Homo sapiens: one gene and its partners. The protein of the gene in region 3 interacts with the protein of the main gene of each other region in a pairwise test. Each region holds a gene or a part of one and is shown on either strand. Other genes may lie near its edges.

Region 1 (3,649 bases), on a different chromosome or scaffold from region 3:
CCCCGGGCAGGAGCCGAGGGACGGGGAGGGGAATTTTGGAAGGAAGCCAGGGTATCTCCCTGGCCTGCCCTTGGCTTGCCCTTACCCCTTGCCTCACCACAGGTATGGGGAAGAGGAGCTTTTCTTCCTGCTCCCCCGTCTTTCCCAGGCTCAGATGCCGTTTCCCTTTGTGGCCTAGGTGCAGTGGAGGCTTGCCTCTTGCATCAGCTGAGACGCCGTGCCGCTGGCTTCCTGCGCAGTGACAAGATGGCAGCCCTGTTCACCAAGGTGGGGAAGACGTGCCCAGTGGCGGGGGAGATTTGCCACAAGGTACAGGAGCTGCAGCAACAAGCAGAGGGCAGGTGAGCCCTGGGCCAGCCCCTTCTTCCCTCCTTTCAGCTCTTCCCACTTGGCAATTGCTACTTCCTAGGACACCCATCGGAAAGTTGGCATCCTGGGCCTGTTCCTTGCAGGGCCTCTGGGTGAGGGATCAGCTTGAGGGAGGGGATTGGTTCCTTGTGGGCACAAGGCTCTGTACCCCTCCTTCACCTCCCAACCCCAGTCAGTTCTCTGTGCTCCCATCTTGGGGTACCAAGCCCCACTCCCAATGCCAGCATTCTGGGGTTTACCCCTAGACCACTGCACTCCTGGAGCCCTCCCCGCCTTTGCAGGAAACCCTCAGGGGTCAGCCAGGAGGCCCTGCGGAGACAGGGCTCAGCCAGCGGGAAGGCCCCGGCCCTCAGCCCTCAGGCCTTGAAACACGTATGGGTACGCACGGCGCTCATCGAGAAAGTTCTGGACAAGGTCGTGCAATACCTGGCGGAAAACTGCAGGTGACCGCCCCGTTCCCCAAAAACTGCAGGTGACCACCCCGTTCCCCCCAAAACTGCAGGTGACCGCCCCGTTCCCCAAAAACTGCAGGTGACCGCCCCGTTCCCCAAAAACTGCAGGTGACCGCCCCGTTCCCCCCAAAACTGCAGGTGACCGCCCCGTTCCCAAAAACTGCAGGTGACCGCCCCGTTCCCCAAAAACTGCAGGTGACCGCCCCGTTCCCCAAAAACTGCAGGTGACCGCCCCGTTCCCCAAAAACTGCAGGTGACCGCCTCGTTCCCCAAGCAGCCCCTCCCTTGACCCGTCTCCCGACGTCCCTCAGCCCCAGCCCTCAGGATGCTTGCCTGTCCGTGACAGCCTGTAGGCAACCCTCCATCTCCCCGTCCCCTTCGGTGCCCTCAAGGCATTGGCCATACCAGGCACCTCACGAAGCCCAGTCCCTAAGGACTCACTGTTTCTTGATGACTGATCTGAATCTGGTCTTTGTGGGGATGTCCCTACCTGGTGAGCTTGACTGCCCTGGAATGAGCCCCGGAGCCTCGGCAGTCACACTGTCTGTCTCCTGGCAGCAAGTACTACGAGAAGGAGGCACTGCTGGCAGACCCTGTGTTCGGCCCGATCCTGGCCTCTCTTCTAGGTGAGCCTGAGAGCACAGGCACAGTGGGTACGGGGCAGGTGCTGAGGGAGCATCGTCTGGGCTGGCTGTCTCTGTCTCCACAGTGGGACCCTGTGCCTTGGAATACACTAAGCTCAAGACAGCCGATCACTACTGGACTGACCCCTCTGCTGATGAGCTGGTCCAGCGGCACCGCATCCGGGGTCCACCTACTCGCCAGGACTCCCCTGCAAAGCGCCCAGCCCTGGGGGTAGGTGCCCCCTCCCCACCCTTTGGGCTCATCTGGGCTATGCCCATGGGCCTGTAGGGACGGGAAACCGGCCTCTCTACGGGACAGGCCTTGGAGATGCCCCAAGGTAGCGGCTGCCTCAGAAGAGCCTTCTCCGCACAATAAAACTTAACACAAATGCCGGGAGCCCATGCTGGTCCGTGGCTGGAGAGCAGAGGGTGGCTGGGAGTAAACCGGGGCAGGAAGGACCCCTGGGGTCAGCTGGAGAGGGTCAGCATGGAAGCGTGAGGGTTCCCAAGCCTTGAGGCCAGTTTCCCAAGGCTGGAGGCTGAGCCCCGGCCTTCCACACAGATCCGGAAACGGCACTCAAGCGGCAGCGCGTCGGAGGACAGGCTGGCTGCCTGTGCCCGCGAGTGTGTGGAGTCCCTGCACCAGAACTCACGGACGCGGCTGCTCTATGGCAAGAACCACGTGCTGGTGCAGCCGGTAGGAAAGCTTCATCCTGCCATCCCTCCCCGAAGGTCCCCGAACGAGACGACTGGAAGCCTCTAGCCATGGCTATTCCTTTCCTGAGGAGCTTGACCAGAGACGGGGGGGAGAATGGCCCCAGCCTCCCAACTCCCTGTTTCACACGACTCACGCCCAGCCTTTAGTTGGCAGGGGACAGGAATGGCAGCCAGCAGGCGAGGGGAGTCCGCAGTGTGGGTATGGCTGGCCTGGAATGGACCTGGCATCCAGGAGGCTGGCAGGAGAGAGTCAGTGGCACCAGGCTGACCAGGGAAACTGAGTCCTGTTTTCCTGTGCTTCTGCCCCGTCCCTAGTCCAGGACCCCGTGACTAGCCTAGCTTGGCCTCCCCTCCTCCCAGCGGGAGCTCATTTCTCATAGGCCATCCCTGAGAGCCTCTCAGCCCTTCATCGTCGGTCTTCCGGTGTCTCCCGCTGTAGAAGGAGGATATGGAGGCGGTCCCTGGCTACCTCTCCCTGCACCAGTCTGCAGAGAGCCTGACTCTGAAGTGGACCCCCAACCAGCTCATGAATGGGACTCTGGGGGACTCCGAGCTGGAAAAGAGGTGGGGGCTTTGGGACTCAATCCCAGGAGCCAGGGCAGGGAGTGGGTTTGACCTCAGGCAGAGGGATGGAGAAACCCCGCTTGCTCCAGGAGGCCAACCTCACTCTTTATTTGGACGCCAAGAATAGCAGGGAGCGGCTGCCTGGAGTGATTCCCAAGCTCTCTAGGACGGAGCCAAGCCTGGCCGTGAAGAGGTTTGTCTGAGCCAAGCTCTCAGCGGCTGAGACGGACAGCTGTCCATGTGCCGAGCGGGCAGCACAGATCTCAGGGGTCATGGCTGGCTGTGTGCACCTCTTGGCTATGGTCATCCTATCTTCAGGGGAGTTTCGTGGGGTGGTAGGACCAGGAGACAAGGAAGGAAGGAAGGATGGCAGGTCTTTGGACACAGTGACAGCAGTCTGGTTCCTTTCTAGCGTTTACTGGGACTATGCCCTCGTGGTGCCCTTCAGCCAGGTCGTGTGCATCCACTGCCACCAGCAAAGTAAGCCTGCCTTGTCCTCGGCTCGGGTGGGAAGGGAGAGGCTGCCTTCTGCCAGCTGTGCACTGTGCGTGGGGCCTGTAAGACTCCTCGTCCTCCTCCCATCCTTGTTAATGGGGCTCCCAGGCCATGCTGTAGCCCAGCCATCTGCCTCCTACCCAGCCTGGGGGCACTGGCCAGCAGGGTGTGATAGCCGACGAGAGGGCCTCAGCCGCACTCTCCACGTTCACCCCCAGAGAGCGGTGGCACGCTTGTGCTGGTGAGCCAGGATGGCATCCAGAGGCCGCCGCTGCATTTCCCACAGGGAGGACACCTGCTGTCCTTTCTGTCCTGTCTGGAGAATGGGCTGCTGCCTCGGGGACAGCTAGAGCCCCCGCTGTGGACCCAGCAAGGGAAGGTAACTCGGGTGGGAGGCTTTAGGGGAAGGGCTGTGTGTGGGGTTCTCTG
Region 2 (3,649 bases), on a different chromosome or scaffold from region 3:
AATTAATGACCTAATGATAGGATTGAGTGATAGCAAATGTTATATCGGAAAAGAAGATTGTGGGAGGCCATGACTAGCTGTTTACAAATATACAAAAGGATGTCTTATGAAAAGCAAAACTTCAAACATTAGCATGTTGTGAGTGATCACATGAGAACCAACAAGGCTTTCATGATAATCTGATATTATGCCCCTATTTGCTAATTGTGTATGGCACAACCGGCCTCAAAGAAACATACTATAGTAGAGCAGACTGTGTTATGGTACTACACCATCCTAACTTTTGTTTTTCAGCCACCATTTGTAATGGAGAAGTGGATTGTAGGAATAGCAAAAAGTCAGACTGTGGAGTGCACTGTCACATATGAGGTAAGCTCTGGGGGCAAGAGGCTGGTGGCCTCACCATCAGTTAATGAATATAAATTTATCTGTTATCTCAGAGCATATAATTTATTGGGAGATATACCCAGAGCATATAATTTATTGGGAGTAAACCAACCAACATGAACATAGGAAGATCAATATAATTTCTCTCACAACGTGTTGGGAAGAAAAGAGAACAGGATAAACTTACCCAGATAGCGACTGAGGTAGTACTTCAGTCATTCATTAGTTATGGATTGAACACCTTCTGTATACCATGTAAGATGTTTGGTATTGGGGATACTAATAGTTAATACTAATTTTTTTTAAATCAACAAGATCTTCATGGCTGGTAGGACATACACCTTACAAGGTACGTAGACCCGGTGGGAGTGGGTGGAAGGCAACAGTTATAGTACAGTCTTGGCACACCTGGAAATATTAGTGTGCACCCACCATCAAAGGGACATGCATTTCATTCATTCATCAATTCATTCATTCAAGAAACATTTATTAAGGATCTACCATGAACCAGGCACTATTAGAGGTGCTTACACCAGTTTGATCACACTAACTTCATGTAAATCAATACTGAAAAATATCGTCCAGGCGCAGTGGCTCACACCTGTAATCTCAGTACTTTGGGAGGCTGAGGTGGGCAGATCACTTGAGCCCAAGAGTTTGAGACCAGCCTGGGCAGCATTATGAAACCCTATCTCTACAAAAAATACAAAAAGTAGCCAGGTGTGGTGGCACATGACTATGGTCCCAGCTACTCGGGAGGTTGAAGTCGGGGGATTGCTTGAGCCCAGGAGGTTGAGGCTGCAGTGAGCCGAGATCACACCACTGCACTCCAGCCTGGGTGAGACAGTGAGACCCCTGTCTCCAGAAAAAAAAAAAAATACTGAAAGATATTATTATCCTCATTTTGCAGATAGGAAGAATAGGCTCAGAGAGATGAAAGGAAGTCTTGAGGTGTGAGGTCCTCACTGACAGAATTGTTGAAGTCAATTCCATGTTTTCTGACTATAAAAAACACTTTCTGCGCTTCCCTGGCTACCCTGTTAGCTCCCAGTGGCTGCAGTAAGATGAAGTCCACCTCAAAGAGGACTCTGTGAGTGTGGCATTTTGATGGTTTCCTGGGCTGCCAGGATTTGGCTTTTCAATATTAGAAATACAAACCCTGGGCCAGGCACGGTGGCTCAAGCCTGTAACCCCAGCACTTTGGGAGGCCAAGGCGGGTGGATCACCTGAGGTCAGGAGTTCGAGACTAGCCTGGCCAACATGGTAAAACGTCATCTCTACTAATAATACAAAAATTAGCTGGGCATGGTGGTGCATGCCTGTAATCCCAGCTACTCAGGAGGCTGAGGCAGGAGAATCGCTTGAACCCTGGATGCAGAAGTTGTGGTGAGCTGAGATTGCGCCATTGCACTCCAGCCCAGGAGACAAGAGCAAAACTGTCTCAAAAAAGAAAAAAAAAAAGAAAAGCAAAGCAATACAAACTCTGGCCAGTCCACTTATCCAGGCTGGAAGCCAAAAAGTTTTACAGCAGTTATTTATCCTCACCTGCTGGGGTGCACAGGTTGTCAGGGATGAGGCATCTGAGAAGTTATATTACTTGTCAAAGCATTGCTTGCAAGGTGCAAAACCCAAACAAAAGAGGCTGGTTGGTCTTGAGGAACTTGGAAACTAGACTACTCTACAGCCTGTTAACTGGTCCTCACTACCCAGGAAAAGCCCTCTTGTTAGTAATCGGACAATTAGAACAACCAGATTCTACCTCTGCCTGCCTTAGACAGTTTTGGAGACAGCACACCCAGTTCTCTTTTTCTTCTTCTCTCTCCCTCCTCCTCCTTTTTCAGACCCCATGATGATATGCCACTTTTGTCTGGGTTTTTCACTTCAGAGTTTTTTAAAACAGATTTCCCTAACCATATTGAATCCTGGAGACTCTTTAATTGACACTGATTGGTGACAGCTAGTGAGGAGGGAGATTTCAGAACAAGAAAGTAATGTGTCTTGACCTAGTGTCCTCTCCTTTTCCTGGTCCCCATTTCTTACTTCTTGATCCTGTCTCACTTTTGCATCTGAGACCCTTTCCCCTCCGTGCAGGTAATTCACCCCACCACCTTCACTCAGTTTCCTTGATGATCCAAATTCAGTCTTAGGCAAACATGGTGGTCAGATTTTCATTTATTCAACAAAATAGCTGTCATCAAGTACTATAAATAGAAGATGTAATTTTTTATTTCTTATTAAACAAAGAGGTAAGTTGAGATTTGTCAAATATAATAAATTCTGGGAAAAGACAACCATATTTTTTAGCTACTATAGTTTACTAAGAAATTTATGTTATAATCCATTAAGGAATAAGTGCTATAACCCACTAAGAAATAAAGTGGTTAAAATTTTTCTTTTCATTGAATTAGCATATTTGGGCCAACTGTTCAGAATATTTTCCTAGTGCATTATGATAGTGTTCTAAGAGGTGAAACTGAAGTGATATAATAACCTGGATGACTTTCTTTCCCATTTTATATATGTGTGTCTATTTGGTCATATGTTTCTATTTGTCTTTTTTTTGTCTTTTTCGTTTGTTTGTTTTACCAGAGTGATGTTAGAACTCCAAAAAGCACTAAACATGTCCATTCGATTCAGTGGAGTAGAACAAAACCTCAGGATGAAGTGAAAGCAGTCCAACTTGCCATTCAGACATTATTCACCAATTCAGATGGCAACCCTGGAAGCAGGTCCGACTCAAGTAAGTTAGTGTTCCCGTATTAGATGTGTGCTAGATTCCAGAAACTTAATTATGACATTTCCAGATGATCTAAAGACTCAGAGGATACCACCTCAATCAGTTAAGATCTATCTTTGAGCTTCGAGTAGCAGAAAACCCAGTTGCAACTGGCTTACTCCAATAATTCCCCAAGTGTGGCCCCAGGACCAGGAGCATCGGGATCACCTGTGAACTTGCTAGAAATCCAGATGCTCAGGCCCAAACCCAGACTTACTGAATCAGAACTCTGGGGATAGGAGCTGCAGTCTGCATTTTAAGGAGCCTTCCCAGTGATTAAGAACAACTCTAAAGTCCTTAAGCCACTGATTTAAACTGTAATAAAATTTATTATCTTCCATAACAAGAAGCCCAGAGGTAGGGCAGGCTCCAGGTGCAGTAAGATAAGCTGGCTCAACCATATTCAGAGAGTGGAATGAACCTTCCCTTCTTTCTGCCCTGCCATGCTCAATAGGCTGCCTTTGCCCTCGGCTCCTCTCCTGTTTA
Region 3 (3,649 bases):
TTTTTTGTAGAGATGGGGTTTCTCCGCATTGGCCAGGCTGGTCTTGAACTCCCAACCTCAGGTGATCCGCCCGCCTCGGCCTCCCAAAGTGCTGGGATTACAGGTGTGAGCCACCATGCCTAGCTATGTCATATTCTTCTTATCCAGCTTTATTACAGTGATTGCTTTTTACATGTCAGCCTTTAAATTAAAGACTCAGCAAAGCTTACTAGAGGCAGAACCATTCCAGCTGGAAAAGTTCAAGAGTTGCCATCCCAAAGGTTGGTCTTTCAGATGTGCTTATCCAACAAGACGTTCCTCTTTACGATGACTAAGAGTCACTATCACGCTTACCCAGAAGTTGCAAATGATGACTAAGAAAAACGGAAACTTCCAACGTGGTAACTAAAGTACACACTTGCAACAGTAAGTTTTCCAAAAGCAAAGCACAATTTTCTCCACCGTGAACTTGTCCCTGAGCCACCCTGTCTTCATGAGACTCTCAGAAAGGGAGGGTCAGCTCTCTGTGACCTCATCTTACAGAACTCCTTCAACTAGTCCCCATGTCTCCTCATTACTGACACATCATAGGAGAAAAGATATGCAGACATATACTGTCAGTGACATGAGTAATGCTGAACAAATAATAAAGGTCAAAGGTACTAGATTCTATTTCTCAGAGTTCAGTTCACAACCTCCACATCATCCTCTCAAAGCAGCCACCATCATCTGTAGTGGATATAGGAGGCCACAGAGCTATGGCAGGCCTGCCCCTGACCAGTGACAAGGCAGGGCGGAAGTGGCTCTGTTAAGGATGACTGCTGGGATTCAGGAGGAGCCAGGGAATAAACACTCACCCAGGACTCCATGTCTGGCCTTTGTTCTGCAGCCTCTGGCCTTTAATCAGACAAAGTGCTGGAGTGGCAATGCCTGCCGCTCTGAAAGCCCCTTCAGAGGAAACATCTGCAGCAGGGTTCAAAGGGCAGAGGCAGTTGCTCAAAGGAAGCTGGAATTTAAAAAGAGATGAAAAACAAACTTGGCGGGGGGCGGGCGGTGGCGGGGGTGAATAGAGCAGGGGCAACTGAAGTTGGCTTTCTAATCCAAACAATTAGATTAAGTGACAGTGAACATAGGAAAGAACAAATATTTGCTCAGCCTACTGTTAGGCTCTTTGCCAACTGCTCCCACGTGGAGACTTAGAAAGCCAAGTCCAAGAAGGCGAGATGATGCCAGACAGCTGCCCAGCAAGCCCTGGCCCCAGGTGCTCGCAAATTCCCTCTCTTTGCATGGGCAGTATCCTATTCCACTTTGGGAAAAAACAAGAGAAACTGAGAAAGCCAAGGGTATTCTGAAGTATTAGAAAGAGATTAGCACTGTTTAACCACAAATGACAGGAACTAGGGAGAGAGGAAGGCCTAAGAGCCAGGATATTCTGGCAGGTACTGTCTTAAAATCATACATTAACCAGGTGCTTTGCTTCTCAGGTACTAAATCCATCTGGGAACACATACATCAACCTAAAGGCCAAGTCTCTAGAGATCCCTTCCCAACGAGCTTTTTCTACCCCATGCTCTCAGTACACATGCAAAGGCTTTTGCTTCCACTGGGGAAAAAAAACAACAGGAAACTCAAGTAGCACCGTTCCACACAGCAGAAACACAGGGCTGCAGATACCTGGCACTGAGTCCCCACACTGCCATTAAACCAGTGCCGGAGCTGTGTGCAAATAACAACACTCGTTAAATCAAATGCTCATCCCCATTCTGTGGTCAATATTTGAAGACATGAAATGGTTCAGAAACCTGTCTGAGCTTAAAGGATGAGTAAGCCTCAGACTCCAGAAGTTAAACTATAAGCATGGACTTTGGAGTTTGTGCAGGTACATGGAGAGAATGCAGGTGCTGTGTCCCTCACATAAAGGCTGCCTCTGCACTGTGCAGAATATTCAGAGATGATGGCAGGTGCTAAGGAGGAAAATAAAGCAGAAAAGGCCTCGCAAGGAAGATAACTTTTGAGGGAAAACCTATTATGTGTTTTGTTCATGTATATTTCTTCATATGAAAGAAAAAAAGAAAAGCAAGACTATGTTACGAAAGTTCCTCTTCCCCTCCTCTGGCGTCACTTCCCCTACCCCAGCCAATTTTGGAAATATGGCTATTTAGTCTTGCCTTTCTACACTCCACACCCAGAGTTCTTTTTTAGCAACACTGAAAGGTTAGAGACAACTCACTGCTTAGGAGAAAAATCTCTGCATCAACTAATTTTGTCTCCCCTCTTGACACTGTCTCAGGACATTATTGATTGTCACAACTTAGCGGCGAGGTATTACTTTTTACAACAGAATTATCAGACCCAAAGTGTTAACAGTGCCCAGGTTGGCAAACTCCAATTTAAGGGAATTGATCTTAACCTGAAATATCTGTTCCTGGTATTCTATTATACTTCAGTGTCTTGTGTAGGGAGAACAAATGAGTTAGAAAAGAATAGAACGTTCATGATGAAACTCAAATCTGCTTAGCCACAATAAAAGCAGATTCTTATCTGCAAGGTATCCTAAGCCCTTCCAGTTTTGAAAAAAAAGTCATGAAAGGCCCAGGGCGCTGGATCATACCTGTAATCCCAGCACTTTGGGAGGCCGAGGCAGGCGGATCACCTGAGATCAGGAGTTCGAGACCAGCCCGGCCAACATGGCGAAAACCTGTCTCTATCAAAAATACAAAAATTAGCCAGGCGTGTTGGCAGGCGCCTGTAATCCCAGCTAGCTGGGAGACTGAGGCAGGAGAATCGCTTGAACCTAGGAGGCAGAGGTTGCAGTGAGCCAAGACCACACCCCTACACTCCAGCCTGGGTGACAGAGCAAAACTCTGTCTCAAAAAAAAAAAAAAAAAAAAAAAAAAAACAAAAAACAGAAAAAAGTCATGAAGTTCCTGGAAGTGAAGGACAGGAAAGGCAGACTGGCTGAGACCACACCACATACTGGGGAAATTGGGCAGAGGACTAAATAATTTGAAAATTACACTTTACTTTCTAGTATCAGTTCTGTGAAAAGAAAAGCCTTGAACGGAACCATTTCCTTTGCAAAGGAAACAGCAAGATCCAAGTCTGCAGCGAAAGTTCTTTCTCAGGTGAAATTATAACTAGTCAGAAGCAGAGTCAGTGATCATGCACACCGTAGACTCAACCTCCTGCCATCGCAGAAGGTGCCGCACTCGGCATGCACCTTGGTGTCCGTGCACAGGCTGTTCCCTCTGCCCAGGTACCACCTGCCAGTTACAGCCTAGGTACTGCGAAATGCAAGAGCCCACTGTGCTGGGTGCCCCTCCTTGCTCCACAGCGCTCCACAGCTGCTTCTATCACATCACCACCACACTACTGTATTTGTTTCCATGTCTGCGTCCTTCCTTATTTGCCTCTTAGTTCCAGCAGCAGACCTGGAGTAGGCAACAAACAACACTGCGTCACACTCAGTGACCACCAGCGGGGAGTAATGCTGCATGTGATGGCCTAAGAACCAAGAAACAGGTTTTCTTGGTGGAAATTTGCCTGGAGCCTGACTTATCTGTTAGGTGATTTTTTTTTGATGTGGGATAGGCCCAAGAGAATTTTCAGGGATTCTCAACCAATTGCTTCAGGTCCTGGGGAAAGTGTTGCTTCAAACAGGCCCGAAGAG

Evidence for each region.
Region 1: the proteins of MPP1 (region 3) and SGSM2 interact in a two-hybrid assay, tested with the Homo sapiens proteins (one large-scale study listed by BioGRID and IntAct).
Region 2: the proteins of MPP1 (region 3) and MAP3K20 interact in a two-hybrid assay, tested with the Homo sapiens proteins (one large-scale study listed by BioGRID and IntAct).

The regions. Positions count from the first base shown.
Region 1 is NC_000017.11:2,361,459-2,365,107, forward strand, and holds part of SGSM2 (small G protein signaling modulator 2), read left to right. Parts: intron 1-178; coding exon 179-341; intron 342-650; coding exon 651-812; intron 813-1,379; coding exon 1,380-1,447; coding exon of another isoform or gene 1,448-1,530; coding exon 1,531-1,676; intron 1,677-2,006; coding exon 2,007-2,141; intron 2,142-2,541; coding exon of another isoform or gene 2,542-2,600; coding exon 2,601-2,725; intron 2,726-3,137; coding exon 3,138-3,205; intron 3,206-3,438; coding exon 3,439-3,599; intron 3,600-3,649.
Region 2 is NC_000002.12:173,260,769-173,264,417, forward strand, and holds part of MAP3K20 (mitogen-activated protein kinase kinase kinase 20), read left to right. Parts: intron 1-294; coding exon 295-369; intron 370-2,976; coding exon 2,977-3,127; intron 3,128-3,649. UniProt on the Homo sapiens protein: Stress-activated component of a protein kinase signal transduction cascade that promotes programmed cell death in response to various stress, such as ribosomal stress, osmotic shock and ionizing radiation.
Region 3 is NC_000023.11:154,798,909-154,802,557, forward strand, and holds part of MPP1 (55 kDa erythrocyte membrane protein), read right to left. Parts: intron 986-3,649; exon of another isoform or gene 849-985; coding exon of another isoform or gene 837-848; intron 1-836. UniProt on the Homo sapiens protein: Essential regulator of neutrophil polarity. Regulates neutrophil polarization by regulating AKT1 phosphorylation through a mechanism that is independent of PIK3CG activity.